2 separate regions of the Homo sapiens genome follow, and region 2 is linked to region 1. A link means that fine-mapping ties the variant in region 1 to the expression of a gene that starts in the linked region. Tissue or cell type: caudate. Region 1 holds a variant in brackets; the other region holds the start of a gene. All regions are shown on one strand. Distances are from middle to middle. Region 1 overlaps SLC5A12 (solute carrier family 5 member 12). Region 2 holds the start of SLC5A12 (solute carrier family 5 member 12).

The links. PIP is the estimated chance that this variant, and not a neighbour inherited with it, causes the effect. A credible set is the group of variants that fine-mapping cannot tell apart.
Region 2: it holds the start of SLC5A12, and the variant in region 1 is the best candidate, but not a certain one, in a credible set for the expression of SLC5A12 in caudate (GTEx, PIP 0.51).

The regions. Positions count from the first base shown.
Region 1 is chr11:26,665,944-26,682,619 of GRCh38, forward strand. SLC5A12 (solute carrier family 5 member 12) reads right to left here. Exons shown (of 15, transcript NM_178498.4): 12 at 15,112-15,278; 13 at 12,769-12,872; 14 at 7,459-7,586; 15 at 1,077-5,308. The coding sequence ends at 5,159. Among named protein-coding and RNA genes, the nearest start is that of SLC5A12, 48 kb to the right of the region's middle. The variant G/C (reference allele first, on the strand shown) is at 8,483.
Region 2 is chr11:26,712,336-26,729,011 of GRCh38, forward strand. It overlaps SLC5A12 (solute carrier family 5 member 12), which reads right to left and starts at 9,725. Exons shown (of 15, transcript NM_178498.4): 1 at 9,041-9,725; 2 at 306-371. The coding sequence starts at 9,379.

The DNA of each region.
Region 1 (16,676 bases):
TTATACTATACTGCAAATAAGTGATTTGAAGGTTGCTCACTTTTTTTTTATATGGCAGTTAAATTAAGACATTAAGTAAAGAATTACACGAAACTACTCTTAGCCTTTTAAATGTGTCAAAAGCAGATCCTGTAATAGGGATGAGGTGTTCTGAACATCTGTGCACACACTTGCTTTTGCAACTTAGGACACAGGTGAATCATTTCTGGAAATTCCTGAGGATAAGGTCCACAAAAGATATCACCATTATTCATTGCTTTTCTTGATTTATAGTAACCCACTTTATTAAGTTACAAACCATCTTGATGTTTATTTCTGTGTGTGTATGTGTCATAACCCATGGGTGAACTAAATATTACAGGCATTATCCAAAACATCATAAAGGAAGTCATGTTATATGATATGAAAAACCTTATTTTGGCATATGGTTAGTTGGTCACCTGGTAGACCTGCCTTAATCTATAAGGTTTTAACAAAAGATTTTAGAATAGGTGACTATCTTCCATTCCATCCCTAACCCTGTAGAAAATATTCACATTGATAATTCCAATGCACTTACATTGGAACTTAATTTAAAAAATTTTTAAATAATTATATATAAATTATATACCTATACTTGTTTATAGGCATTTTTCCTAATCTTAACTAGTTGTATAAACAACATTAGATTTAGATGTATTCTAGGATTCTGAAATTAAAAAGCTGCAAAAGATTTTGAAAATACAAAAATATCACATTAAATGTCCTATCGATGTACTGAAATATCATTATCAATGAACATCTTGCTCCACAGGGTAAGATTATTTTTCTAATTTATGATGACAGCCTGACACTTCAAGAAAGGGTCATGTTGTGATTAAGAAGTTACATACTTATGAGCTTAACTCTTTGTCTTCTGAAGATGGCTAATATTTGAAACACCAAAGTATAATATTGGAAAAATGGGCTTGTGCATGTTTGTTATTCACATGAGTATTTGCAAATCTACATTGATTTACTCAGGAGATTGGGGTGGGAGAGGAAACAATGATATTATCTGTTTCCAAGAATTACCAATAAAATCTACCCATTAGTAATTTACTATCAATGACGAGTTACATTTTATTAGTTTATAAATTTGTATCATTTTCATGTGTACCATTGATGACATCAATTAAATTTTAGTTATTTGAAAATAGGTTATACTACAAGATTATAAATGCTAGATAAAAGCAGTTAACTCTATAGTAAACCTAGCTAATTTGCAATATTGAGATTAAGTACATGAGACTTGTAAATATACAAATGTGCATGTACATACAGCTATAACTTCTGTAATAATTTAAAACAATTTATTTCAAAGGGAACAATTAAGGGGAGACTCCTCTATTTTTTCCGTATCTGATCTTTGTAATAATGTTTGATTAAGACTGTAACAGCACAAAAATATTTCAGTAATATTCTCTTTGAAATACTGTTTGAAAGCCACATGGCCAATGGTTTACTTTTTGTTTCTCTTTAGAATGAAATGGTGTAACCCTATAAAGCCACAAAATAGTAAAGTTCATTTTTAGCAAATACTATATAAACAAAGGGAAAAGACCCTCCCCACCTTCTGTTGCTATTTTGAGAGTCATAGTTGCTTTGAACTGTGCAATGAGTAATAAACTTGGGTTGAGATGCTGTTTATTTATCAAGGTTTACATGTACAAAATAATAATAAATCATAGTAATGAATTGCATCTTTTAGTAATAAACTTGTTTATAACAGTAGTTTTCTCTCTTTTCAGAATTTAGGACCTTTAGAAAAGTTACTCTCTGGAAAATAATATTTTATTTAAACTCTGGCATTAAAAAAACTACTCTTTGGAAATTTAGGCATGACTTTTAATGTATACATTCTGTTTTTCTTATTATTTCTAATTCTCAAAATAGTAACATATATTCTGATCCCACATCTTAAAAATCCTGAAGAGAAATAATGAAACCATTTAAGTTAACATGTACACCATTTTCTTCATATACTGCAGACCAAGTATTAAATGTTCCATGTGGGCCAGTCACACTGTGCTAAGCACTTTATATGATTTACTTATATAAATCTTCATAATAATTCTATTAAGTAGGGGTAATTTTTACTCCTATTAATTGGTGAATAAACTAAGATTTTAAAATATTGCCCAAAATTACCTAGATTTGTGTCAGAACTCGTGTTTGAACCTAAGCCATTTGACTGCAGTTCCTCACCTCAATCATAAGCTGTTGTAGTTCTTATTCCAAATGGTGACAAAAAATGTCTGTCATCAAAATGAATTCATACAGAATGAGTTAAAGAGGTATTGAGGTAATTCTGTTCCATTTTTACCAATATCTGTGGTTGTGCTTTAAAGGTACAGTGGTGAGTATCAAGTTTGGAACATTTTAGGCCCCTCTAAAACTCATCATTCCTAGTGCCATTTATTGAGAATGTCTCTGGTCATGCTGTGGCAAAAACAGCCACAAGTTTAACCCTCTTCCATGGTATGGATGGAACTTGTCACTGAACTGTCTTTGTACTGCACCAGTGGCCTTGGCATGACTCTGGGCTGCTAATCCTAGTGAGGGCCTGAAAGGAGTGCTGGGACTCACTAGCTGAATCTATTGACTGTGCGCTTCATAGTTTCCTTTTGCTTCACCACACAACAAACACGGTTTTCATACACTATGGAAGACAGTTTCCTGTAGATTCCCATCTGCTCTCTACCTGAAACCCTAGATTTATGCATGTTTGTTCAATTAAGAAGAATGGGGGGAGTCTCTACATTGACCTCTAAAATCTCTTGAAATGTCATCTCCTAATGCCATAAATTTCATTACACAAGAGAAGGCAGAGATATTTTTATAATAATAATTGCATTTTCCAGTTGTATGACATTTTGATAACACTCCAGGTAAGATAATTAGGGACTATAAAAGAAGAAACGTTTTTAAAACTTTCTCGGAAATGTACTGACCTAGTGAAATGTCTTTAGGAGAATTTGTGAGTAAAATTTGTGAGTAAAATGAAAAATTGTATGGTATATTTTGCTTTTATGCTATCCCAAGTGGAAGTTCACAATCCTGATGTATTCCAAATCATATTTACATATATATGTGTACAGATATATATATGTATATGCATATGTAATACCTACCATTAATTTATTCTCATCCTCAGAATTGCTGTTTTTTTATTCTTTCTGTCTCTCTCTTCCTCTTCCTGTCTTTTTCTTTCTTTCTTTCTTCTTTTCTTTCTTTCTTTCTTTCTTTCTTTCTTTCTCTCTCTCCCTCCCTCTTTCTTTCTCTCTTCTTTCCCTAAGATATTAATAAAGCTAACTAGTTTTGGCTCAGATTTCAATATTCACAAAATATATATTCTAATTAATAAGAGTGTCACAAATCATTTGGAAAATAATTGCACCTCTCAATTTGCAAATCCTTAGATCAACAGCTTAATTAGCGTTGCCAGACTTTAAAAAATGTTTCCAAAAATTCTGCTCCTTCTCATTTTCAGATATTTCTCCAAATGTGACCCCTTTTGACCCTTTCCCTCTATTCCCAAATGTATTTTTTTCTCATCTCTCTTATAAACTGTAGCCTAATACCTTCTTTCTCTTTCTCCATTCTCCTTTTCTATTTGAGTGGAGGGAGAGAAGGCAAGGATTGGGCTCTGTTTTATAAACTCCAGTTTCTCTGTTTTAATTCCTCCACTGATTTGTCTGTCTTTCTATCTTTTCTAATAATAAATACTGGTAATTTATTTTTTCTCTATTGTATGCTTCTTTCAAGGCTTTCTCTTTTGAGAAATATTTAAAGACAACCTTTGGATTTCCTTATCCTTGCCTATTTGGACCATTTCTTCTTACTTTGCTAACACACTGTTTCTAGGCCTTTTGCTTTTATCTGGCCACCAAAATAAATATCTGACACCTGTCCTAATATATGACTCTCAGATACAACTTTGTTTCTTATTATCTGTCCTCTGACTTGGCCCCTGTGACATACTGGTTCTTTCTTTTACCTTTTCAGAATTTCACTTCTTCACTTCTTCCAAAAATCTTTCACTGCTCCTTCATTTGTCAACTCGCCTTTTAATCTGCAATACCCTCATTCTCCAGAACTTTAAACATTATTTTCTAGACACGAACTATGAAGTTCTCCACTTCTGTTACCTAACCCAGGTGGAGTGAGTTGAGCTTGCTCACATGAGTTGAATGAGCAGAGTACAAGTCTTATGGACAATGTATTTTCTCCAAAGAAGAATCCTATTGCTGATGAAATCTCCTATGGTCTGTTACAATATTTGCAACGTTCTTTTACCAAATTCTATCCTAACAACCTTCTATAGGACATTCCTTTTCTCTTTCCTTAGCCCTGGAAAAAGGCTCTAGACTTCTTATTGAGCTCTGAGGCAATTTTTCATTGTAAAGTGATAGAAAGGAAGAAGACATACTGCATGGACAGCACAAAAGGAGCAAAGTTTTTAGTTATAATCACTCCCACTAGCCAGACATACCATCTTCTTCTGTATTTAGCTGAATTTTTTTTTTAATGTTTGGTCAGGACAGCTAATGACTGGAATGACTGGAAGAGGACCTGACAGTGGTGGTGAAGGGAGGTTAATAGTAGTTGTATGCCAATTGTAGCTACAGGATGGGAGATGGGTGGCATAAAATATATCTACATGTATGTCAGGTATGAGGTCAGGGGTGGATGTCATTCCTCTATTTTATCCCTCGTGGCAGGAAAGTGTTAAATATGCATATTTCTGTTTCCCGTTCTGCCTCTAAACTCCAAGATATTTTGATGGTTAAAAAACTACTAAAACGAAAAACCTGAAGTTTAATATGACACCAAGCAAAAAGACTTCGCTTTCTTGAATGGTAATGAAATCCAGCCCTAATTTATTCAAGAAGGAAGTAGTCAAGGGCATTTGGAGCAGGTTGGTTTTTCTCTGTGAAAGTTGGAGTCTTTCAAAGAATATCCCGAGAGACAGTCATTTTGCATGTAGTTATAAATAAGTAGAAATAGGCACCAGACATCCCTGTCTTCTAGCAATGGCAACTATACATATCTACTAACAAGTAGGCAAGAAGTATGTGGAGTTTGTGTGTGTGTGTGTGTATTGCACGTGTGTGTGTGCATTCATACAGGTATTGCCTTAGAAATGGGTAGTCTCAAATGCCATATTGTTGTAGCTTTTGTCCTTAGGATCATAGCCTGGAACATGTACCAGGCTTTCTCTTCTGAGTCCGTTCTGTAAGACAGATTCAGCCCCCTGTTTCCGGGCACTGCCATTCTCAAGGTTTTCCTGAGGGAAATACAAAGACACATATTAGCAAGATATCCTTGATGTACTCCAAATTAACCTGAGAGAATCTTGTTTAGGCCTTGGCTTCAAAAAATTATATATATGTACAAAAGAAGCATAAACAACTCTGACCTAAGACATTTTCTAATTGATAACTTTGATAATCCACGTAAGGTACTATTTCTAATGATAATAACAGCAAAAAGAACAATTTATTGAGCATTTACAGTATGTCTCGTGTTGCATGAAGAAATTTATATACCTCTCATTTAACCCAGCAATCCTGTGAGGTAGTAGTATTACCTTATAAGGAGAAACATACCTGTATCTCATATGGGGATGGCCCCCTTCCTACCTGGGAATAGGAGAGTCTGCTGATAAAAACAGGGACACCTATGCACAAACTCCCCTGGATGCTGCTCAACATTATTTTTTGGCAAAGGAGCCCAGTAGTGACACAAGGAGTGTCCCCTCCCTTTCAACTTATCCTTGAGAACAGAAGCTGGCTGCCTGCATTAATTAAGTTTATTATTTATTCCAGGAAATTCTATCTTCCTGAGTCTGCAAACCAACAAATAACTTGATCCGTTGCTTCTAGAACTTCCTCAAAATTCATTTATACAAACAATAGGCTGCTTAACCAGCTGCCTTCTCAGCAAAATAAATTGCTCATCTGGGTAAACAGCCCTTTTCTCAAAAGTATAGATTGTTCAATGAAGCAAACTCCTTGCTTATCAAGCCACTGTTCAATTATCAAAACTGACTTTAGGACCCTCACCTGGCTATGTTTTCCAATTTTAAATTCTCACAACACAGTTTTGCCCAGTTCCAATAAGAACCCTGAATTGAAAGATCTACCTTAAGTCACTTAAGCTCAGAATTCTATACATGTCTGCACCTAACTTCTGTATTCTGAGCCTCTCTGTAAACGTGGTGCTCTTGCCTCCTGCCAAAAGTAATAAACTCAGCTTTAGGTGATATACATGCTATTCTGCTGTTTTCTGGAGATAAGAGCAATGGACAACTCAGAAATATTTGCCATGATATGGGTTAGGCTTCCCTCTCCTAAAATCGTAAAAGAATAAAATGTCTGGGACTAAAAGTGAATATAAGTTTAAACTAAAAAGAAAAACACAACAACAACAAAAAATACTCCTGCCCTTAATCAAGCTGGGAAGACAGACACTGATAAGGTCAGCTGCTGCCAAGGTCTGGCAGTCATCAAATGCTGTAACAACCCTTTGAGTGACCATTGCACTCTTACCAATGCTGCCCCAGATAGCTTTGTGGTCATTTTCTGCTTCCCATAGACCCCTTTAAGAATCCTTCAGTGGGAACCCAAACCTTACAAAAGACATGTTCTTCCTCCCTCTTGTTGAGGGTGGCATTCCCCGATTCCTCTGAAGTACCCCACCTTGCTGCATCAAGTCAGTAAGTCCAATTTTGTCTAACTACAGGCTCTTTCTGGTGGTCTTTGGCTGATGAAACCTTAATAGAACTTGGACAGTGTCTCTAGTACTGCCTGATCTAAACACACTTCTTTTTCCCAGAATAAAGAGAGCTAGGGAGTTAGAGAGTTAGGTGCATCTTGCTGCGTCTTTGCCTGTACATTCCCACCATGACCTTGCTTTACGTTTATATCCCATAGAACTGGAAATGCTTGTGTCCATGTTGCTCTGTATAATACCCCCCTTACTCATCCAGTTTTTAGATCAGAAAAGCTGGAGTTGAGGAGTTAAATAATTTACCCAAAGAATGTAGGACATGGAACCAGGATTAATCCCAGGACTGTCTGACGCTAAAGTCCATGCTTTGAACTATTATAGGAGAATGTGTCTTCAATTTGTTCCTTTTCTATTATTCACTTTTATGTCTTCCTAGAATTCACCTTCACAGGGGTTAAAACAGTTTGAAAACTGACCACCTGCAATGCCAGTAATTCAGCTACAAGGCACTTTTACCTATCAACATATTTATGTGCTTAAAAGCTGATTAGCTGAGATAACTCTGAAGCTGAAACTCAAATTCCTTCAAGTTCTCACACTCACTGCTTTCCCTTTCCAGTGCATCTTTGCAGCCGGTTTAAATGGGCAAAACCAGGAATCCCTTTGAGTCCATACACATTTTTAGAAGCTCAAACATCAGCTCACCTGCTCTGTCCCACTGTCATGCTGAACTCCACACCAGCATAGTGTTTTGTACTTCTTAGACCAAAAGCAAAATAAATTACAAACTGGTCTAATTAACAGTGGTTGAATATCCTCACCTCTTTGGCGACCTATTAACAAAAGAACAAATAGATTAGATGGTTGCAGGCCTCCATGTCTTCCTTTACAGATTTAAACATTGTCAACTTGAAAAGTAGGTTGCTTTTTAGAATAAGAGTGAAAACAAGATTGAGTGGTTAATAAACAGAAATTGGTTAACTGCTGAAAGGGGTGGGAGTTCGTTTTTAAACATCAACAAATTGTCAGGTCAGGTAGACTCATGACTGTAGAGTTAAACAGAGACAACCTATTTATTTTTAAATATCTATTATAGAAAATGCTACTAGTAACCTTCTTTGGCCAACAGAGGGGATAGCAGTAATTATGCAATTTCTTCCTTTAAAAAAGCTCTTGACTTTTTATCCAAACCAGATATATTAATATTTGAGATCATCTAAGTCAGTATTTGTAAAATTAGAAAGAGTATTTTTATTGTTCCTTCTTTTCTTTCACCCTAACATCCTGAACAAGCAATACCCTCATGTTCCTCCCAGGTACTTTAAGCATTCCTCACACCTCCTCATGCCTCACACCCTCCTTTTCCCTTCCTTGAAACATACCTGTTCAATGTCCTATTTCTTCAAATCCTGCTGTGGAACAAGAGTCAAATTGATATTCAAACCAAGATGTAAAGGCCAATGATTTTGCTCCTCCCAGAACTTATGCAAATTTTAAGTCATAAAGACTATTCACTAATACCCAATATCATTCAAGGATAGTTATTAGTCCCATAGTCAGTGTAGTGTAAAGATCCCTAGAGGGAGGAGTGGAGTAGTGGTTACACTGTTGATCAAATTTCTTTTAAGTGCCAGATACTGTGACCATCCACAAACTTTTTCTCAAACTGCTTTCTAGAGACAAAAAAAATAAAAAAATGTAGATTTGTTTGTTTTTTGTATGAGACAGA[G/C]TCTCATGCTATTGCCCAGGCTGGAATGCAGTGGCATGATCTCGGCTCAATGCAACCTCCGTCTCCCGGGTTCAAGTGATTCTCCTGCCTCAGCCTCTGGAGTAGCTGGGACTACAGGCACGAACTACCATGCCCGGCTAATTTTTTGCATTCTTTTTGTAGAGATGGGATTTCACCATGTTGGCCAAGCTGGTCTCAAACTCCTGACCTCAGGTGATCTGCCCACCTCAGCCTCCCAAAGTGCTGTGATTATAGATGTTAGCCACTATGCCTGGCCCAAAATGTGGATTTTTAAAAATCTAAATTGAGGCTTAAGCAATCTATTCCCTGGCATTTACATCACTATGTCAAAAGACATTTGGCCACATAGAATTCTACTACTGTTGATAATAATATTTATCAATTAGTCAGTGTATTCTACATACTGAACACATTTTACATAGATTATCACTAATCCCTATAAATAGGTAAGTATTGTTATTCTCATTTCATGGATGAGGAAATGGTGAACTTTTCTAGAAGCTAATAAATGATGAAGTATACATTTAGTTAAACATATGTGATCTCACACTCTGTAACGCTCCATTTGCCTTAATGTGTGCGTATGTGTGAGTGGCTGAGGAGGAGTTGCAAAACCTCAAACTTCTATCCAAGGGCATCTCTGAATCAGAATAATTTAATTTGGGACAAAGCCATTTCCAGGGTTTCAAACAGAGAAGAGTTTTGTCTCTGAATGAACCACAAAATCATCAAACACTCCAACAAATGATGTAGATCTATTGTCTCTTAAGAGCAGGTCCTGAGATTTGCTAAGAAGGACAGGACTCTGCTTCATATGGATTTAGATTCTGTTTTCTTCTAGAAAAAGACAGTATTCCCTTTGGGAGATAGCAGATGGTAAAGCAAAGTATAGGGCTATAATTCTCACAGGTAGGAAAGTTAAAAATGAAAATGAAACTCAAATTCTCAAACCAGAAGCTCTGTGTTTGCCTTCAATCGTGGATTTATCATCTCTTTCATGAGCAAGACCTTGGGGATTGAGCATCAGTGGACTGCTGAGAAAATTGGTTGAAACCAAGTTCGTCAAGAGACTACAGGACTGTAGACATACTAGGTGAGAAAAGAGAAGGTCAAAGGGGATGAGATCATATCCTGTAGACAAGTAGGTTTATCCTAAGGAAAAGAAAGTTCATGCTTATAGAGGAAATGTCTCTAGATGTATAGTAACCTGGGGTGGTTTTGAGGAAAGTTCCCCTTCCTCTGAGCAGAACCAACTCTATGCCAAGGTACTGACTCCATGAGCAGAATGCAACCTAGAATCCATTCCCCACATGGTCCCTCTACTGGGCACAAGCCCCAAAACTCTCAGCAGAAGTCCTGAGTATAAGACATAGGCTTAAGTTGGAAGTTAGGAAAGTCAGATTAGGAGTGGAAAGGGCATAAAATTTCAGAAACCTAGGAATAAAGAGATGGTCTATAAACTTGCAACAGAAAGAATGGCATGAGTGTGTGTGTATCTATCTGTGTGTGTGTGTGCATGTATCTGTGTGTGTGTGTATGTACCTCTGTCTGTGTGTGTGTGACAAAGAGGAGAGAGAGACTGAAATAAGGTAGATTACACACAAGAATCAGAAATTAGAATGGTATCAGATTTCACCACAGCAAACTGAAAGCTAGAATATTTTTGATCTGTCTCTCATCGTTATACAGAGCTGCACAATTCCTGACAATTTATAAACTAGTCCAGTAAATTTCTCTGATGAGATTAATTATCTAATACAAAGATTACTTTTTTATGTTAAGAGATAGATTGTAAATATTTTAGGCATTGCTAACCAGAGGATCTTTGTTGCCACTACTCAACTCTGCCTTTGTAGAGTGAAATCAACCATAGTTAAAAGCAAATAAATGGGCAAGCTCTGTTTCTAGAAAACAAAAAAAAAAAAAAAAAAAGAAAACAGGTAGTAGGCCAGATTTAACCTTAGTACGGAAACATAATCTAAAATATAAAATAATAGATTGATAACTAAAGATTTTATATCTGAGACATGCAGCTTTATGGTAAATGAGAAAAATATAGTAAGATTCAGATAAATATAAACTACTGTACACTGAAAAACAGAGTAGCATCAATCTCTATATACTGTCCTGATAATGGGATGTTTTGGCCACTTGATACACCAACAATGGTATTTGTTCTTGATTTAGGAAATGATATTTTCATTTCACATATCTAAAATGGAAAAATTAAAAAATAACTTTCAGCCATCCAGCAGAATTTTATCAGTAATAATTAAGAATTTAAAGTGTATCTTAGGCCAAGATCTTTCAGCAGCTGATGCACAAAATGATTAATGATATAAACTTCCTGGAGTTGCTAATCAACACAGACATGATTCTATGTGTCAACATGTATGAGTAACATAAACAGCATATCTTCGAGGTGCCGTATTTTATCTGGAAGAAGTATAATTGAAGACATCACCTATTAAGACCAAACAAGACCAAGATAAAATATGACACAAGGAGAACAGGCCCACAAAAGGCCTCTGTCCTTCCTTACTGACCCTATTCTACATTTAAACATTGTAAGACTTTTTAAAAGATTCAGTGGGTATTACAGAAGATTTGTTAAAGCCTCTTAGTGAGCAGACCTGAGGTTATCAGGCTAGCCCTAAGGCCTCATTTGGAAGACAGGGACCAGGAGGCAAGAACATCTGGTGGTCATGTTCAAAAATTTTTCCAAATGTTTGAAGGCATAATTAGACTTTGTTAGAGTGTTCGCTTTTGGCCTGAAGGGCATTTGACTAAGACCTGGCTTATTTGGAGAAAAAGAAAACAAAGGGATTAATACTGGAAGAGTTATTCATGCTGAAAATGTGTAAGAATTTTCAATCAAATTTAATATAAGTGCTGCTGTATCAACATAAGAGCATGCTAATTCTGGTGCACACATGGAAAATATGGACTGGCAAACTACTGGATTTCATGTGTACACATTTCCTGATTTAGAAGGAAATGTTCAGGCAGCTGAAATCTTGGTTGTCTTCTTAGTGGTGACCGATCACTAAACTGAAATGTCTAGGTATATCCCACTAGCATCAAGGAAGGAGTTACAGATGTCAGGGTACTAAGGCAAAATCTAAACAAAATGAATAAACAATCTTTTGCCTGAAACCATTTACATAAAGACATTGAGAGAGTTGTTATTATGTGAAAGACTGGGGTTACAAGATTTATAGTCTATTCTTTATCATAGCCAAGATCTTCTTAAATTTCAGTGAATGGCTAGTGACATCATGCACAGAACAATAGGGCATTGGAGCTTCAATATAACATCTCTAGTACACAGTCACCAGAAATGTTGCCATTCAGGTTTTGTGTTGAGTCAGAATGTTGGCCATTGTTCATTGGTATATAATAGTCATGGAAAAATAGAATACCTTAAAATTTTTTAGCTAAAATACATACTCCAAGGAGGTGGAGGGACAAGAGTACAGTGAACTTATTCCACCCCATTATCTCCCACACTCTCACCACTACCAACCCCTCATGGGCTTTGAAACAAAAAGGACATTAATACATCAAAAGGGCAAGTATGGATGGTAGACACTTTGCTAAAAATGGCTTACAGTGAAGCTGCTCACTGCAGAGAACTCCACGACCCTAGAGAAGCAGCCTCCAAAGGACAACATAGGCAAAAACAACAGTGTTTTGCTTTTCTAGTAAGTTAGCAAAGGCTGACTTCATGAGATAGTAAGATGGTGATGACAAAAATCTTGTCTCTTACTGGGATGAAGGGAAAAGAACCACTCTGAATATTTAACCTTATTTACTGATTGTTATATTACAGAGGGTTTTTCATACTCAGGCCTCTGGGGGGCATGTGTCAAAGCATCTTTTTTTAAATAATATATGGGAAATGTTTGAATATATGTTTTTTTGTTTGGTTGGGGTTTTTTTTGGTTTTTTGAGACGGAGCCTTGCTCTGTTGCCCAAGCTGGAGTGCAATGGCACCATCTCAGCTCACTGCAACCTCCACCTTCTGGGTTCAAGCGATTCTCCTGCCTCAGCCTCCCGTGAATATATGTTTTATATATTAATAGTCAGGTATATAATAATGAAGGGTGCCTTTGTATGTCAGCGTTGAGAGAGTAGACATCTCTGTGGGAAGAAGGGTTTTTGTGGGAAACGTGAATTCAAAGCAATAAGACAGACAGCCAGTCCACCAATGCATGCATGAGCCCATATCTTCTTTAGTCCCAAAGGGAGGAATTATAACCAACCTGTTATGAGGCTGATGATTACTCCAGCAACAATGCATCCTAAGCAGCCCACTGCACTGTAGTAAAGGTAGGAGATCGAGTACCAGGTATCAGCTATTCCAGGTCTGTGGAGAACAGCACATGTCACCAATTCCATGCATCCTAAAGACCCACAGTGATGTAGAGGACTGCTCAGGATTCATTTTAGGGCCTGGCATCTCAAAAGCCTAAATCATAACTTTTTGTCATTTAAAAAATTATATTTAGAGAAGATGTGCTTTGTATTCCACTCAATTCAATTCATTCCTGAATTACAAATATAACGATGTTGATACTGAATCATAAGTATTACAATGAGGATTGTGTCTTAATACAAATAATACAATTTCATTTGTATTATTTATTCTTCAGACTTTTATTAAGCCCAGATTTAGTGCTAGTAATTGTGACAAGCATTAGTGATATAAAGATGAGAAAGTCACAAAGTCTACATACAGGAGCTAATAGACAATCATAAAATGGGTTGGTTTTGCCTCAGTAGAAAAGGTATAAAATACTATGGCAGCCTTCAGAGTAGTATCAAATTCAGACCAATGCGTGAGATGATACCTCAGCTCATTTTGAAAGAATAATTAGTAGTTAATCAAGCAAAGAGGGTAGTCAGGGCCAGGAATTAGCATTCTAAGAAGAGAATACAGTAAGTATAGGCAGGAGGGAAGAATCAACATGGTTTATGGGGAACCATGAATAGGTTGAAATTCTTCGATATAAAATTTATGGAAAGAAAATGAAACTCAAAGACAAATGGAAGCAAAATAATGGAGTGCCCATTTGGAACCTGAGTCAAAATGAACTTTATGGAGGAATAGGAGACACTAGTATGGCTCTTGAAAGATAAACAGATTTTAGGAGAGTGGAAATGAACACTAAAATATATTCATGTAAAGGGAATAGCTTAAGGACCCAAATGTAGGAAAGAGTGGGATAAGCATAGGTAGACGAGAAGAAACAGAATTCAGAGTAGAAGGAAAACAATAGTTAATAACATTAAAACCACAGGAAAGTTTTAAGTTTGGCAGGTATTTAGCTCCAGGATAAAAAGGTTGTGTTTTATTCCATAAGCACATGAATCATTTAAGTCATCTCCATGTGGTAGTAATGAGTTCAGAAAGGTGCTTCAGAAAAAATAAATCTAGTGATGCTTGGATAGAATGGGTTGTATTAGAAAGGAAAAGAGATAGAAAAATGGAGGAAATAAAAAATACAAATAAGATAATTTCACTTTTCTGGACTTTGTAAAGACAAGACTAGCCTCAAGATTGACAAGGACAATGGAGAGGAGAAGATATGCCGGACCGAGAGAGACTTTCATGAATGCAATTTGCCACATTATCTGGCCAGTTTGAGAAGCCTGGACTCAGAGGGAATGAGCCAGTATGGGGAGATATTGATGATAATCAGAAAAGGGCTACTAAAAATGAAGTACTTTTGAGGATACACAAATAACACAAATCCTATATTTTCTAGACTTGCTCTTACATACAATTAGAATGTGAGAGTGAACATTTATTAAAGTCACGTGTAGTGCTACTTTATATATATGTATATATATTCATATATATATATGTATATATATTCATATATATATGTATATATATTCATATATATATGTATATATATTCATATATATATGTATATATATTCATATATATATATATATTTCCTCATTTTTCCATCAAGGGCTCTGAGAATTCAAGAAGTTACAACTTACTAACTTGTCCAAAGATACAGAGGGAATAAATTATAAAACCAAAATCCAAACCCAAATATTTCAGATTTCAAAGTCCACAATCGTCTCTCTACACCATAGTATCTGATGTATTTTGATATATTTGATCACTTACCCCAGCCAGAAGTACAAAGGGAAATCCTTTGTTAAACCCTGTGTTCATATTGTTTGGTTTAGAAGCCATAGGTTCACAGCGGTGCTCCTAACTCAGCTTGCCCATAAGCATTATCCTCATTGCTCACAAACTTCTTCTACTGAGTTTTATTCTTTGAGGAAACCATGTTCCTCATACCCAGTCACCTGTCTTTGAACCCTCCACTATTTTTTCTCTTTTGTACTCATATCTCGCATTAACTCTTTCACCAAATTGGTTTTTGTATGTCTGAATACAGAGGAATGGACATCTGCAGAAAGCTGCAGCCCTGCGTGGCACTCTTCAGTGCTGGGTACTTCCCTGAGTGAGTCTCATAAGAGAACAAGATATGTCTCATCACACTTATCTCTGAAGAGTGCACCTCCCTCTTACCAGGTGACCCACTCTCTGGGACTTAGCACCATCTATAAAGTCAGCATACCTGCTGGATAGTACTGGAGGCCCTGTTGCTGTCACATTTGATTTGATACATTGGTCTGTTGACAGAGGCAAAGGCCATGTCTTAGAGGCTGGTGCAGGGTAAATGAAGGCCCCAATGGCCACCCAAAATGACAAGGTGATTCCAGTAAGAAGACCTCCTAGTGCACCCTGGATGAAGAAGAAAAAGGTTAATGGGAAATTTGGCAAAGCTGTCTATGGAAAGAATAATGAGATGAGGAGTTCTATGCCTTAGAGATTCTGGCTTTCCATCCCAAATCTTGGCCACATATTTCAGAAACACTCTGCTCAAACTGCCTTCACCTCAACTCCCATAATGCAGGTTTATTAAGGAGTGACTTGTTCTTTAAATGAAGACATCAGATAATTTCATGGTGATCATTATATTTAGATTTCTAGCAATAATTATTTTTCTCCTTAGGGTTTCTTTCTCTTACTACTTAAAAAGCTGCTGAAACCTCAATTCTCATTAGAAGACTTTCAGAAGTTAAGGAAAACTTCAAATACTAGGTCATTTTTAGTTATTGACAGCTTTTATACAGAAATTATTACTCCTATCTCTCTTCCTAAGTAACCAGCAGAGTCCCCTGACTCCCTAGTTCTGAGTTTTTTTGTTTGAGTATGAATACTAGCAAGTGCATTTAATGGTCTTGTCATTTAAGGTTTATATTTCTTGATAAATAGTGAAAAGTCAAAGAATCACTTTTCTTGTAGAGGAGGCAGAACAATCTAGCAGAGATTAGGACCACTAGAGAATATAATCTGATGTTTCTGGTCACTGCTAGGAAACTGAGCCTTCTGAGTCAGAGAAAAGAAACCTGTTGGCTTCTCTAGTTAATCAGAAAAAAATAGAAGAGGCCTTGGTAAGAGTTCCAGAATACTTTCTCCATTATTGTTTGAAGAAATTTAATCAGTGTGTGTGATTTGAATACTTGTGCCTTGGTCTAAACAAGTGATCTGAAAATTTCTAATATAACAGTCAGACAATAAATATTTTAGGCTTTGTAAGCCATGCAGTATCTGTCACAACAACTCAGTTCTCTTATGGCATGTAAGCAACTATAGACAATACCCAAGCAGAAGAGCCTGGCTGTGTTTTTAGTAAAATTTTATTTATGGGCACTGAAATTGGAATTTTATGTAATATTTTTGTGCCAGAAAATATTATTCTTCTTTTGACTTTTTTCCCAACCATTTAAAAAATGTCAAAACCATTTCTAGCTTGAAGCCATACCAAACACAGGGGGCCAGCTAGATTTGGCTTGAGGCATATCGTTTGCTGACCCCTGGCCTACCAGTAAGTGGAAAATGGATTTCAACTGGAGGGTTAACCCTGGTTGATCTATAATGGCTAGCTGGAGAGCCATGTTGAGACAGATTCTGAAGGTGTAGCCACATTCTATGGGAAGGAGAGCCATGATTGGTTAGTAGGATCAGCTATGGCCATTGATGAGGGGAGAGGTGACACAAATTTATAATATTTACTATACTTTATTAAATATCTAGGCAAAGGCCATGTCTTAGAGGCTGGTGCAGGGTAAATGAGGG
Region 2 (16,676 bases), 46 kb after region 1:
ACCTAGTTATCAGACCATTTCATATCTAATCTAGAGCAACTTATGCAGGTTAAACAGCAGTGAAATACGTGTTAAGAAAATGTGGGTGGCTTATACACACACACAAACGGCTTTTTTTCCCTTTGTGGCTTGCAATATACATTTGTTTGTTATTTTTAGTACATATTAAAAGTGCTATCTTTGGAAGAAAGTAGCGTCTTCTTAGTATTAAGTGTCCTTTAGCTGAGTTTATTGCCCCCAAAATAAACAAACCTATATCTAGTAACCTCACAGTTTCCACATCTGCAGCAGCCATGACCACTTACCGTCTGTACAATGTAGATGACCGTGGCAGCATAGCGAACTGGTTTGTTGAATCGTAGTTGTAAGTACTAAAGGAAACAGAAAGACATGCAGAGTCAGTGAGGTTTAGATAAGAACTGCTAAGAAAGTCCTTTTTATCTTGGTATATCCTCTGTTGTGCTCTGGACTTGTAATCTGATTTTATGATATGTATCCTTAGAAGCAACAGGAATAAAAAAGCATGGATTGTTAAAAGTCAAAGATCTATTAAAAATCAATTTCTGTTCGTGTTTCTCATGATGATCAGAGAAGAGAAGTGGGTTGTTTCAATAAAAATTCAACTCTATTGACTTTCTGCCCAAAAGTCTTCCTAGTGGACTCACTGAAGCCATTGTTTCCTTTTATATCTTTGCTGCTCCAAATTTAGTTCGATCCTTTATTTTCTCTTTTCTGGATTGCTGTTGTGGCACCCCAATTGATCTCCCTAATACCATCTGTGCCCACTCATCCTATCAACCACATATCTCCCATATCAATTCTTTGAAAGCAGAGCTCTGATCATGCTGCTCTTTTTCTCAAATTCTTCAACAATTCTCTATCATTGACAAACAAAGTGCAGATCCCAAGCTTGATATTCCAAACCTTCCATTGTCGGATCCACGCCCTCCCTTTCTTATGTCACTAACCTTCACATAATTTATTCTCCACATACAATTATTGTTTATCATTCAGCTAACACATTTTGTGCTTTTTCAGACCTTTCCTTCATTTAGGCAGAACTCTCAATATAAGAGCCCCTCTCCCCAAATTTCACAAAGTCTTAGTCATCTGTCAATAGATGGAAGGAAAAGTAAATACATTCTTTCAGATATAGAATTATGCAGTTGAAATAGTCTTTCTTCTTTCACAGATGAGAAATTCAAGACTTAGATCATTGATGAAAGCATCAGCCCAATTGCTATTCCTGGCTCTGCTCATATTTCATCCTCTGAGCTCATATGGCACTAATATTAAGACTTTTTCATGGTTATCAGTTGCTATCTTATATTTTGGTGTTGAATTTGATTATCTCTCTGTATTAGTTTGTTATTAATACTGTATAAATTAATTGCCACCAATTTGTTGTCTTTAAACAACAGAAATTTATTACCTCTCAGTACTGAAAACCAAAAGTTAAAAATCAATTTCACTGGGTCAAAATCAAAGTGTGAGCAGGAGGCTCCTACACGAGGCTTTAAGGAAAAGTCAGCTTCCTGCCTTCCTGCTGTTAGTGGCTGCTGGCAGTCCTTAGCTTCTGGTTCCATCACTCCAATTTCTGCCTTTACAGTTACATTGCCTTTTCTTTTGCCTGTCAAATTTCCCACTACCTCCCTCATATAAGGATATATGTGATTGATTGCATTTATATAGAGCCTCTCTGGATAATCCAAGACAATTTTCTCACCTCAAAATCCTTTAATCACATTTGCAGTAATCCCTTTCAAAACGAACAAAAAAAAACATGTAAAGTAACATTTACAGCTCTCAGGGATTACACCTGGATATATACTGGGGAAGGTATGCTGTTTTCAGCCTACCATATTTACTATTCCTAATATACAAGTACTGTTCTATTTTATTCATTTTTATCTTTATCATTTACACATTCATTCATTCAACAAATGTTTGTTACCTGCTTTACATATTGCATTCTGACACAAAATGATAAGCAAATATGATATAGTCCATACCATAGAGGATCTTACAGATTAGACGAAGTGACCATTAACAAATATTTATACTAATGGAAGTAAAGTTGCAATTGTGATATGTACTACAAGAGCTAAAAGTAGCTGTGAACTTCCTAAATAGTAGAATCTCATTTACTGTTTTGGAGATTAGGAAAAGTTTTTCTCAGTAAGTATTCTAGAAGACATTAATATATGTCTTTCAGTATATAATAAACATGTATTGAATAAACACCATAAAATTTTAAAGTATCAATTGGCTTGAGGATTAAATTTCTTGCTAGTAGTTTCTACTTGATAGTAGTTCTTTCTTTTCTGAATTAAAAAAATCATTTTGATTAAATCAAGGATTGACAATCAATTTATCCTTTCCCTAGAAACATTAGATAAATGTTTCATGGCTTACAATTGGCCCTTCTTTGAAGCAAAGGACATCTCTTGGCAGAACTGTGACTCCATTTTATACTAACTCACATTCTCAATTTATCCTGCCAGATTCTCCCAAACCTGAGGTAGAAAACCACCTTATTTTCAGGTCCTCTCTTCAGATGATATATTCTGTGAGCCAGAATGTATAGTCCGGTGAATATGTGAATGAGGGCATCAGACATAAGGAAAATATTACAGAGGAAGGGAAGTCAGTGAGGAGTCAGCAGTCACAAATATCATAAGGTAGAAAACACTGAAATGTCTGTGGTGAAGACACCTTGGGTTCACATCTTGTGCCCTTGGGAAGACTATTTTCTGCCACTAAGCCATGATTTTCTCTTCTGAAAGTGGATGTTGTATGGATCAGATGGTGGGAAGTATGATAATGCCAGGTACAGAGCTAGGGCTATAGTAGGATTTAATGACTGCTGTGGTCTCTGAGGGTGCAACACCCATAGTTTATTGGCATTCCCTGTTCCAGTACATGTTGATGGCATCTAAATGTGCCTGAGATTATCTGCTTGAGAGTGTTCTGAGCCTTTGCACAGGGCCATAGGGCAGATCAGAAGGCTTGAGGGTGTTATCATTGGCACTCAGCCAATTACTAAATGGGGTTGGAACAAAATACCCTGGCTTTTTGCCTTTCAGTGAGGACAACCCTGAGACGCACTTTATATTGTCTCTTAGAGATCCCCAGTTGGATTGAACCCCAGTTGTTCACAGTGGTAACCTGCTCAAAATTACATTTTTAATTGGCATCTTTTTCTTCTGTTTCACGTTGCCACTTGTCTATCACTGCTTACTAGAATCACTTCCCCCAAATCAACTTGCATTCAAATCCTTGTTTCAGGATCTGCTTCTAGTAGAATGCAACTTAAGACAGAGACATTTCTAGTAAATATATTGCAAGTACAAATTTTGAAAATGCTTCTGTAATGAGGTGTGTTCTCTTTCTGAGAGGAACTCTTTTCTATCACATGAAGAACTCAGGTTAGCCTACAGGAGGATGAGACTAAAGGTAACAAGGACAAGCTGTCTCATTTGCATTCCCCTAGGCCAGCAAGCTGCTAGCCAACTAGCTACCTTATGGAAGTCACATAGATGGTCCCAAGTGAGACCAGCACAATTTTATGGGGCCCATCTGAGCCAGGCAAAATTGTTAATCTGCAGAATTGTGAAAAACTAAAATTGTTATTTTGAGACATTTATTTTGGAGTAGTATGCTACATAGCAATAGATAATCATGAATACAAAGATTGGCACTAGAAGTGGGGAGGTGTAACAAAAACCAAAAATATGTAGCATTAGCTTTGGTACTGGGTGGCACAAGGAAGTCTGGAAAACATAAGGGGCAACGAATCCTGAAAACCAGTAAAGCCACGAGGCTATTGCTATAGGGATCTTGAAAAAAATCAATGGTTTTCGCATTTCAGTTAAGTTCCACTCAACCCAGTAAAATTACAAAGACAGTACTAGGGAAAAGCTATATGAATAAAGACCTGATCAGAAATCAGCCTCCTTGAATTCCAGTTTGAGATTTGCTGGCATCTCACTCTGTGATCTGTGCTTCAGGATTCTCATCTGTGAAAGAAGAAAGACTACTGCAACTGCATAATTCTATATCTGAAAGAATTTATCCACTTTTCCTTTCAATGTATTCACTCATTCATTCAGTGGTCACCTTTGGTGTATATATAAGCTATTCCTATTGTCAAAAGTAAAAATACAACAGAGAAGTTGCATGCTTCATGCCTGCTTGTAAAAATACCTGAGGTGACATTTACCAACATTATGATGGATTATTTTCAGAACCCCAAACTTGATCCAGCCATACTCTTTTCCATCTCAGGAAATACCAACTCTACTTTTCAGGTTGGTTCGAGCCCAAATAACATAGAGCCAGCCTTTACTCCTCTCTCTCCCTCCCCACATCCAATTCATAAAAGAAATCTGGGTGCTTGCCCCCCACTTTCAAAACATATTTACTTGCATTCATCCTCTCTTACAACCCTATTACTATCATCTCTTGCTCAGATTATGTAAGGAAACTCCCAATTACCTCCCCGCTTCAGCAGTAAAAGCCCTAAAATTATTCTTAATATCTAGCTAGAGTAATCCTCTTAACATACAAATCCCATCATGTCACTTCCCTTCCCAAACACTGTAATGACCCATCATTTCTAGAGTAAAAGCTAATCCCTATGATGACCTAAAAGGCCCCATAACGTTGGTTCAGACCCTAAATATCTCTTTTACAACAAATATTATATAGCACCGTTCACTCTGCTGAAATAGTATTCAATAATATCTTATAGATAAACATTGAATTTCTCAAAATATAAATATAATTACTAACAATACCACCACTGTTATTTGAAGGAGAACTAAAAGGAAAGCATTTACCTAAAAAAAGTATGTAATGTATAAATGCTCAGAAACCACTGTACAAGAAAACACAGTGAAATAGTAGCCCGGGCATTATCATAAAGAAAATTTGAAATTGAAGAGAAGTAAGTAGTTCAGAAGCCAAGAAGTCCAAGAAATATGAGAGAACAGGTAGACATTGGCCTATAAGCCAATATTAAATTAGGTAAATAATAGCAAACTAGATTTATGAGTGTATGATAAGAGAAGGAAGGAAATAACTTTAAAGTGAAGATAATATTATGAGACTAATAACAAACTGTACAATTGAGATAATGAAAATATATGATATTGCAAACTAGCTAAGCCTAAATTATCACTTGAGGGTGAGAAGAATTCCCTATACATTGACTTGTGACAGGGTAGTGATAAAGTAGCACAGATGGCATATCTTAGTCTTGAAATCCCACTGCATATCAAGGCATTTAAATCAGTTGGCTATTGCTATATAACACTCGCCTCCAAACTCATTGGCTCAAAAACCAAAAATTTATTATTTCTCATAACTCTGAGGTCAGGCTGGGTGATCTCTCTGGTTTCATCAGGACTTTCATGTAGCTTCAGTAACTTGGAAGATCAATGGAGAGAGGTCTGACATGGCCTCACTCACAGGTCTGGTAACTTGTATTGGCTGTTGGCTAGGTGTCTCTGTTCTCTATGTGTCCACTGCTGCTCCTGAAGCTAGATCAGCTATGCCACCTTCCTTACATAGCAGTATCAGGGCAGCATTCCAAGAGGACAAAGGCAGAAGCTACAAGGCTCAGAAGGCCTAGGCTCCAAGCTCACAGAACATCACTTTGGCTACATTCTGCTGGTCAAAGCAAGTCACAAAACTGGCCAAAGTTCACAGGGTGGATAAAGAGACTCCACCTCTTTCAGTCTTTAGTATTTAAAAAGACCCTAGAAAGCATACCTTTCAATAACTACTAGAGAATGGAGGCTGAAGAAAGAAACAGAAACTCCAGATACTATAGACAGATTAAGTGGTATAAATTTGAAGATAGCAACAACAATGATCATAATAATGCAACACTCTTACATAGTATTTACTATTTGCCAGGCTCTGTTAAAAGTATTTGTATACAATAAATCATTTACTCCTCACAGACATCCTTTGAGATAGATGTTTTTATTACCACTATTTTACACATGTGAAAACCAGGTATATAAAAGTTAAGTAATTTACGCCAAGGTCATGCAGCTAGCAAGTGGCAGAGCTGACACTGAAAGCCAAGTCAACAGACTTTAGAGTCCATAGTCTTTTTTATTTTATTTTTTTAAAGACAGAGTCTCACTCTGTTGCCCAGGTTGGAGTGCAGTGGATCTCGGCAGTTCACTGCAACCTCCCAGGTTCAAGTGATTCTCGTGCCTCAGCCTCTCGAGTAGCTGGGATTACATGTGCGCCACCATGCCTGGCTAATTTTGTGTGTGTGTGTGTGTGTGTGTGTGTGTGTGTGTGTGTGTGTTGTTTAGTAGAGATGGAGTTTCTCCATGTTGGCCAGGCTGGTCTCGAACTCCTGACCTCAGGTGATCCACCCAACTCAGCCTCCCAAAATGCTGGGATTACAGACGTGAGCCACCACGCCTGGCCTAGAGTCCATACTTTTAACTTGCATGCCATAATGCCAATTTTTATAAAGCAAGAGGTAATCCCAAAATAACCTTATATCTACTTTACACACTCTGGATTACTTACTATTAGGTCACTAAAAAGTTGAAAATATGTAGAGGCAAAAATAGTAAATATTTTAAAAACAATTTAGTAAATTAAATTCAATGAAGTCCTTATATTTTCAATACTTGTACTAATTTATTAATTTAAAAAGAGAATCAAATCTCCTCAGTTACATAATTGCAATTGGTTTAGTTGTTTTTGCAGTAACTAGGCCATTTTACTAAAACCAGTTATGGCTAAGCATGTAATGAGCAGCACATATGGAATAGACAGATTGTTCAAAGTAAGTAAATTGTTCAATAATTTTAAGACAGTGTTTTTATTTCATTTAATTTCTGGAAAATGTGCTAATTTATAGTGTGTGTATAACTTTTTATTGTAAAGTTACTGTGCACTAAGGTAATACTAATATGTGCAGTAGTTTTTGAGCATTACGGCATTAAAATATCATGCAGTGCAGAGTGAAATTACTCATTGTATATGTGCCTTTACACACTGAAAGACATCTGATGTCTCTGCCCTCAACTCCCTAAACATCAGTAGTGACTCCTAATCATTGTGACAACCAAATATCCTACAAATATCCCAAGTGCTCCCTCTGTGTGGCACTAGCTCCACTGAGACCCCTGCTGTATATAACTGGGCACTCCCATCTCTTTGATCTTATCTTTTACCATTGTCCCCTTTGCTCTCTCCTCTCCAAGCACACTGATTTCTTTGCTGTCCTTCAACATGCCAGTCACACTCCTTTTCTAGGGCCTTTGCATCTGTGACTACTTCAGCCTGAGATGCACTTCCCTTGTCTGGTGCAATTATTTGCTTTCTTCCAGTCTCCATTTAGACGTCTTATTTTACTTGAAGTTTCATATGATCACCCTCTATGAATATGGACATTCTCTACTCATACCAGCATTCCTCCTCTCTATCTCATCCTATTTACTTTACTTTTTCTCCATTTGTTTTTGTAGGACAGGACAGCATAGTTATTTAGCATATGATATCTAAAGTTAGACTGCCTGGTTTGAAAAACTGTTACTTGCTAGCTTTATGTCACTTAGCAAGTTACTTAATTCTATATGCCTCAGTTTTCTAGTCTGTTAAAAGGAGGTGACAGTACCTGTCTAAAAAAGATTGTTTTAAGGCCAAAAGACTTAACACACATAAGGAACTTAGAGAAGTACTTAGCACATAGTTAAATACCATATATATTTGTATTATGATTTTCTTACACAGTATATGTTTATTGACTGCCCTTCTCTGCTATGAAGTAAGCTCCATGACAGCAGGAACTTGGTGCAATGCTTTATGCCTAGGGCTACGAGAATGCCTAGAACAAGCTGGGTGTGGTGGCAAACTTCTGTAGTCCCAGCTACTTGGGAGGTTGATTCAGGAGAATCACTTGAGCCCAGGAGTTTGAGAACGGCCTGGGAAACATAGCAAAAGCCCCATCTCATAAATAAATAAATAAATAAATAAATAAGTAAATAAATACATGGAAAAAAAGAAGAGTGCCTTTTTAAGTATCTTAAGAGTAGATGCTTAATGAGTATTTACTGAGTGAATAGTCATAAAAATTACATTACATAAAACTATGGAATCAATAACACTTTTTAAGACTTCCTAAAAAGTGTTCATTTGCCTGAGTGACTTTTGAAGGCTAGAATAATGTTTTATACTCATATAGCTTACATATTTAAAAAAAAATAGGTCTCTTTTCAGTCTCCTGCAGTGACTTTAGGAATGATATTGGATAATGAAAATAAATACCTTATTAATAGAAACTTATGTTTGATCACATTTCTATATAGAGCATGCAAATTCAATTTTGAACATGATGTCTTCATTGAGAATCATTGTAAAGCCAAAACACCACTGCCTCATTTCCCTCACATTAAATAATTCCCATATTTGTATTATTTAGCAATTCCTTTCGTTAAAATGTTTTGTACTTTTCAAAAATGTTTCCATTTCCTCATTAAAAATTAGTCTTATTATAATTTGTATTAAAATGCCCTCTACTCTCTGACGGAAAGGCCACTAAGTAGAGATACAGAAAAAATTAGGTTCTCAGGTCACTTTACTATTCAAAAATCTTAACTAAGTCATTTATCTGTATCTCAGTTTTCTTAGCTGGAAAATTGCCGTACTCATGAGAAATGTTCTGTTTGCTTTTCAGAATGATGACGTTCACAATAATAAAAAATAACATCAGCCCTCTTTATTGCAAACCTCCTACAAATGAGGCCATACATTAAGTGCTCACATAGAGGTTCTCATTTGATCATTAAAATAGCCCTGTGGGATTGTCATCATTATTTTCCTTCTACAGATGGGAAAATAGATATGTCTGTCTCCAAAGCTTAGGCTTTTTACAAAAACATTTTAATGTCTTTCTCATAATGTGTAATTATCCTGAAAATCAGTGAGTGTTCTTCAACTACCAGGTGCTATCATCAAGAGGATGAGAAAAAAAAATTAGAGAAGAATGGAGAAATCATCTTACCTCATAAGTGCTGGTGATACCAGATCTGTAGAACACAGGGAGAAAGAGCTCTGATGTTAAGAGGATGACAAATAGGTAAGCAATGAAGAAGACTAGGAAGGATGCCCCAAAGCGGTAGACTTCAGAAGGGGTCCCCAGGACCGTGACAGCTGACATGAAGCTGGCTGTCAGAGACAAGCCGACAGGGCCAAAGCTCATTTGCCTTCCCCCAACCAGGAACTCTCGGGAAGTTGCCTTTTTTCTCTCCTTAATGGCAAAGAACACCCCAATTCCAGAGGAAATGAAAAAGAGGGCTGCAAATACAACATAATCCCAAACTGCAAAGTTCTTCACCTCCATATTGGAAAGTATGACACCAGAGAGTTTCTTTCAACGAGGTCTCAGGAAGAAGATGTTTCCAAAAGCAAAGTTCAGTACAGTGGATGCTTTGCTGAGAGGAGAGACTGTGATTCCCTGAAGAAAATGATTACCAGAGGCACTCGTGTGAATCTTCAGACACCAACGTGTACTTAGTGAAGATCTCAAAAGTTGACTTCAAAGAAGAATCTGGTGGTGGTATTGGCACCAAGAGATGAGAATTTGAAATCTGACCCTAGCTAAGAGCTGTCTGCTCCTCTCCTAAAGCATATGCCACAGAGAAGGAATTCAGATGTGTTCTGAAATTAATAACCACTGGGGGTGGAATGGACTGGCCAGATAACATGCTGTTTTATCTCTTAGATTTTTTTTAACTTAAGGTTAAACATTTCTGGGAAACATAGAATTGATAACAATTTACCACCTCAGCATTTTTAATTCGTGAGATGGAATCTGTAAAATGCAAACACAATCCTCAGCAGTGTCTTCCTCTTGAAGAAGGGAGAGTGAAGGCTGTGTGCCTGCAATTGTCTGAGGCAGTGGATGTGGAGAGAAAGAAGCAAAGGACTAGGAATTCAGAGACCTTTGCTCGAGTCCTGGCTCAACCACGAGAAAGCCATGAAACATTTCATAAATCATTTAACATTTCTGAACTTCACCTGGAACACAGGGATAATAAGACCTTACAAGGTCTTTAAAGACTTAAGTCTTAAACTTCCTGACTCTCTTTGTCTTGATCTGTAAAATGAAAGGTAATAATATGTACCCCATTGGCTATTATCTGTGCTTACAGCAGAGCACTCTGGAACATCATAGCTTTTCTTTCTTTATTCTAGGACCTAGAAAAATCAATTTGCCATTAATTAATAAATTATTTATAGCCTTCAACTTTATCTTGTCTTTCTCTTATTTTCACCAGGTTACTATCACTGTACCCACAGGCTAAGTTAGAATTAGGACCAGGACAAATTAGAGAAGGAAGGTAACAATCCAGTTATAAATTCCTGTTTCTGCTCTCTTTAGACTCTGTCAATTGTTCCAAAGTACCTCTAGTGCAATTTCTAATTTTGTTCATGCTTCTCCTCCTTCTTCAGTGGCCTTCTCCATCCCCACCTCTACAAAGCTTGTGTATTCTACAAGATCTAGTATGAGTTTTCTCTACTCTGTGAAGCTTTTCTGCCTCTCCACGTCAACTCCTGTAGAACGTAGCCTCCCTAGTACTCATTTTGTACTCAGCCATCATCTTGCCTATTTTAGGGAATCTCTATGTAACCGGCTACAGGAGTCTGTCAGCTGTTCAAATGACATTTCCTTGAAGACAGAAGCAAAGCTCTAGTCCATATACCCAATACATTATAGCCATTGTAGAAAATAAAAAAAATAATTTTTAGAAAGGAGAAAACTAAAATTATCCATAATGCCCAAAGACAGAAACATTTCCAGCCAAACAATAAAACAAAAAACGCTCTAATTTTGCTTTTCACATCTGGATAACTGAATAAATCTTTGCTTCATGAATTTGAATTAGACCAAAGAAAGGTTTAATTAGATAGCTAAAGTATGCTTTTAGTTACCAATAAAAATATGAAGACTCTCCCAAGAGCTGTCTGTGTCCTCTGTTTAAATTCCTCCACTAGATTTGGAGATTTGATATGATAAATGTTACTGCAAATCTTGGTCTTTAATATATTTACCTTAACCTGGGCTTTTAATTATTTGTATCATGAAGTATTCCAATTATATATGAGGTTTTTGTTGTGATCTCAGCAGAAAATCAGAACTTTTTTAGCTTTCAGAAACTTGACTCCTTTATAGTTTAATATTTACACTACCTAATGGTTAATATTCAATCTATAAAACATGTAATCCCCTTGTATAAGTCAGGTTAAGAATGGTTCAAAACATTATCATCAATAACTTTCTAAAGGTACATACTAGAAACCTATAACAAAAGAGTTAATGAGTACTGATGGTTTTAATTAAACTTTGTGTAGTAACAGTATTATCTGCATGACTCCAATTAGTCTTGAATTTTGAAGTGGTAGGGAGCAGATTGGTTAATACCTGGGATATGAAGAAACCTTTATGCCTCTTAGGAAAGTATTCCTTGCTTTCAACATTTTGTTGATTATAAGGCACAGCATCAATTCAGTAATTTAATTTTCAGTTATTTTCTACATATTTACCCTTTTCTCCCTTTGGTAGCATTCGTTGTCCTCAAACGCTCTTCTTAATTCCATAAAGACTCACTCCATGCAAAGTTCATGCAGATTGTAAAGCACAGCAGCAATTCATAACTTTTCAGGTGAAAAAAAAAAAACCCCAGTACATTCAATGACCTCATTAATTAGAAGGCACATTTCTATATCAGAAATGTTAATATAGCGAGAAGGAGGGAAAATATGCTTCTTCGACCTGAAGAAATCCCTGTAGCGCCTCTACCCTCTCTCATGTGCACAGAATACTGCCATTTGTATTTGACTCATTTAGTGTAAGGCTTGAGACCCTGTCAGAATATAAACACCATCACCTGTTACTCATACATGGCCTTAACAAGGTCCTGCTACTCAATTACTCACATGCTTAACAAGTTAAATTTGTAATTGCTAACATTAGTAGTCTCCGCAAGGTAAAATAGTTCAGCAATTTGCATGCAACAAGTTGTAATGGGAAAGAAAGAGTTTGATGATATCAAATGCTACCAAAAGAGAAAAAGGTAAAGAACTGGAAGAAATGGGGCATTAAAAACAAAACAAAACAAAACAAAACAAAACAAAACAAAACAAAAAACACCATTGTTGCAATGTTGCTAAGAGTGAACTCTGCACACCATGGTTATTTTGGCCTGGGATCAAAGAGAAGAAAATGCACATGAACAAGCCTTGGTCATTTGAGACTAGACTTTCACTAAATTGGTGTCTTCCTTCATCTGTTCTCAAAGCCAATGGGAGTAGGAGTGGTGTACAAGAATAAAATGGCTATTATTTTGCTCTATTTTTATTTTTTATTTCATTTTTTTTTATTTTTTTGAGACAGAGTCTCACTCTGTCGGCCAGGCTAGCGTGCAGTGGCTCGATCTCAGCTCACTGCCAGCTCCGCCCCCGGGTTCACAGCATTCTCCGACCTCAGCCTCCCGAGCAGCTGGGACTACAGGCGCCTGCCACCACACCCAGCTAATTTTTTGTATTTTTAGTATAGACGGGGTTTCACCATGTTAGCCAGGATGGTCTCGATCTCCTGACCTCGTGATCCGCCCGCCTTGGCCTCCCAAAGTGCTGGGATTACAGGCGTGAGCCACCGCACCCGGCCCTGTTTTTATTTTAAACTAGGAAGTGGCAAGATTAAAACTATGTTTCAGAAAAATTATTATAATAATTTTTACATATTTCAGTCCAATGAATATTAAGGATGGCTCAAAGAATTCCTCACAATGTGAATAAGCTGCTTAATTGAGATAGTGAAAGTAGTCCTCCCCATAGAGCTTTCTCTCAATGAGCATGCCTATCAAACAAATTCCTGGGAGGCAAATTGGTGATGCCAAACTATACTTTAACAGAAATTATGGGTTAAAAAAACAAACTGCAAAGCAACTGTGGCCATTGCCTCCTTCCAGGAGGAATTGAGTAATTCCTATCCTGAAGAGGATAATTCAATATAATGCTTACTTCTGCTTACAGAGATTGATAGGGAAAAAACCATGTCCAATAATTTTATCATAAAAGACAAAAGACTGCAAATCCAGAAGTTCTCCTCTTCCTGTAAGCTATAAAAGATATGGCCTACAACAGCGGCTTCTTGATTGGCTGATATCTTTATGAATATAGAAAGAGTTGATCTGATGAGCAGGTGGGGAAGATAAAAGAACTCTGCTTGCGAATAAACAGACCTTTAATTTTTTTTTTCTTTTTAGTCCATGGGAATGATATTGGAGACTTGTCATAGGAGTGAAGACAAAGAAGTGGCACAAAAATCTGGCTGGTGGCACGGACGTTTCTCAAAAAATATCCCATTGTAAGGAAGAGCTGATGAGATTTTAATAATGGGAATAACTCATATTAAATATTTTTTGTTGTGCTGTGCTGGGGGATAAATTCCTTCTTTACTCCCAGTGTTTAGGGAAAACTTGCTACATCATTGACATTGTATTGTATTTTATCATTAAATTAAAGGGAAAGAAGTTTGTGTTCCACTTTAGGCTCAAAATGGTGGTAGAGATGGATAACTGTTAGAGGAGGTAAAACTCACAAAGGACGTAGAGAATACAGCAGAAACAGAAATTGGAGAAAGATCTCCTGGGATCTTTACAGTCTTGAGGTTGAAGAGGAAAAGACCACTTGGTATTCGATTCTACCAAAGTCAGAAGGTTGAGCTTTCTTTTCTTTATTTTTCTTTTTTCTCTTCCTCTTTTCTCTCCTTCCTTCCTTCTTCCTTCCTTCCTTCCTTCCTTCCTTCCTTCCTTCCTTCCTTCCTTCCTTCCTTCCTTCCTTCCTTCTTCTCCCTCTCTATCTCTCAAAGGGAAAGGTAATCTGAGAATGCTGGAAGGTTGAAGAATTTGAGTTGAGGATTTGCCACTCCACTTTCATTCAAATACCCTTATTAGAAAAATGTTTGCCCTCCAAGGCTATTTGTGTTAAGTGGAAAACATTCTTTAGCCCCAACAAAAGACCAAGTCTCTTTTTACAGTCTCTTACTAAGGTATCTTGTGATTTTGGACATATCACTTAATTTCTCTGATTCTTAGTGGCCGCATTTGTAAAAATGAGAATATATCAGATTAATAGCAAGATAATTAAATCAACGTAAGTAATTAAATTACCTTTTCAAGTCTGCTCAAATGTCACCTTCCTTGACCACCCTATTTAAATTGCAAACCCTAACACTCAAAATCTCCCTTCACAGCTGTAAATTTTCTCCAAGAAATGTATCCTTTACTAATATACTATATATTTTAAATGTTAGCATCCCTCTACTGGAATGTAAGCCCCTAAAGGACTTTGTCTATTTTACTCTCCGATGTACTCTTAGCATCTAGAAGTTCCTATCCCATAGTAGACACTCAATAAATTAAAATAAATTACGTGAATTCTAGGAGTCTCTTCCATGTTTACAATTTATGTTTAATTCCTCTTTTACTGAAAAAAAAACCTAAGTTTTTCAAGCTTTTATTTAGATTGAAATATTTATCTATTCACAAACATGTTTCCATGAAAATAAAAACTGAATTTATATTCCATCCTATCCGATTCCTGTAATTCATTGTAACTAAATGTGACTGTGGCTAATCATTTATTCACATATTCTACAGACACTTAACAAATGTGAAAAGAGATGTTGACTCAAACTTTTAGGAGGCAAATTTCAGAGTCCACTTAGAAAGGTCAGCAGAGAACATTATTTAATATTAAAACAGACTAATGCCAGCACCATTCCACAGTAAACAAGTAGAACATTTAAGCAGAATATTCAGCTGGGAGGGCAACTGAGCGTGAGGTTCAAGGTCCTTAGCTAATTGTCTCATGGATCTCAATCATCCACTCCATTGTAGAATGGCAAAGGGGAAAACCAGCATGATCTACTATCGGCTCAATTTTGCTAAATAAGCATGAAGGGAAAGATGTCTTATTTAGTTCAGGCTTGTAGGGACTTAAACAGGACGTTTGAATAGGCCTCAAAAAAGGAAGAAATTCTCAAATACTTTATAAACAAATGGAACTTCAATTAAATTCAAACAAGATTTAATATTGAGTGATTTTTATTACTCAAATTCTTTGGAAATACACTTCACACAAGCTCAGAGGCAATTCTATCAGTTACCAGTGGAACTCTTCAGTCTTCCATTTCTTGGCAATTCCAGTGTTCTTTATGCCACCTTGGCCCATCACTAGGTATCACTCTGAATAAATGACTTTTGCATATTTTCCAAACTGAAAACCAGTGGATATTTGTCATCACTGGGAATACATAAATAAATGTAGCCCATTTATATGGTGCACATTATCACCCAATTGAGTCGCTGATAAAAAACTATGCGCTATAGTTACTACTGTTCAACACATTTTTGCAAGACTTTCTTTTGATACTACCATGATACGAGTAATTACGTTCTCAAGTGTTTAGTGGCAAATCAAAGACATTGCTATCCTTCTTTATAAGTGATCAAGCTGATAATAATGAAGGTCCAGCCTCAGGTCATTCATCTTCTTCAAGTGGTCAGAATTTTAGTGATGTTTGTGTGTGTTCATATATCTGAAAATTCTGAAAAGCCTTGATTTCTTCACTAAGTTGCCAGGCCCTGGAAGGTTTTGTTTTGGGGTCATGATGCATGGAAAATTACTCATAAATGGAGTTCCCATTAGAATTCAGCTTTTCAGGTGCCTATTTAGAAATTACTTCAATTAATGTGAAATGCTTTTCCTCATATTAAAATCAGACAAGTCTGAATTCAAGTTTCAGCTCAGCCATTTACCGACTTTGGGGAAAGTTGCTTTAACTCTTTGAGCTGAAGTTTCTTCATCGTGGAACTCAGGATTATACCTAATCCATAGACAAAGCATGGTAGGTGGAAAGGTACCAGAATAATTTAGCACAACTTTCCAGCCTACCTTTCTGACTATAGGCATACTTATACAAATCCTATGTAAAGTTTTTAGCTCCCTTTCTGGGTGGCTTGGATTTATTTTATTTTATGCATAGCTCTTTTTTAAATTGAAGGTTGCTCTTGATGGCCCTGCTTATGGTTTTCAGATACATTTTATGAACTTAAATGAAATGATACATGTCAACTGACTGATATGTACTTAGGTGCTCATTAAGTGGAAGCTCTTATTAAGAATGAAGACTGAAGGCATATGAATCAGATAAAGCCAGGCTCAAAGTTTTGCTTAGCCATTTGCCAACTTTATCACCTTGAACAAGTTACTTCATTTCTTTGGTAATTAGCCTACTCATCTTTAAAATGGAAATGGGACCCTTTTAACGGGGTTGTTGTGAGAATTAAAGATATGTGTCAACTACGTCATACAAGCAAGCATATCATAGGAATTTCAAAAATGCTATTGTTATTGCGTCTATCACATTTCAACATTTGCAACTTCCAATGCTATTCTGGAAAGAACAGAGTCTAGGAAAGTAAAACAGAAGCTACCATATTATCACCTATAATACTTCCTGACCCAGGAGGACAAAAGCCAAGTTTCTGATTTGGAGTTCCCTTGATATTTGCTCTATTCTATATCTAGAAATTCTGTATAATGTCTAGATTATGGAAATCCTCTCTATT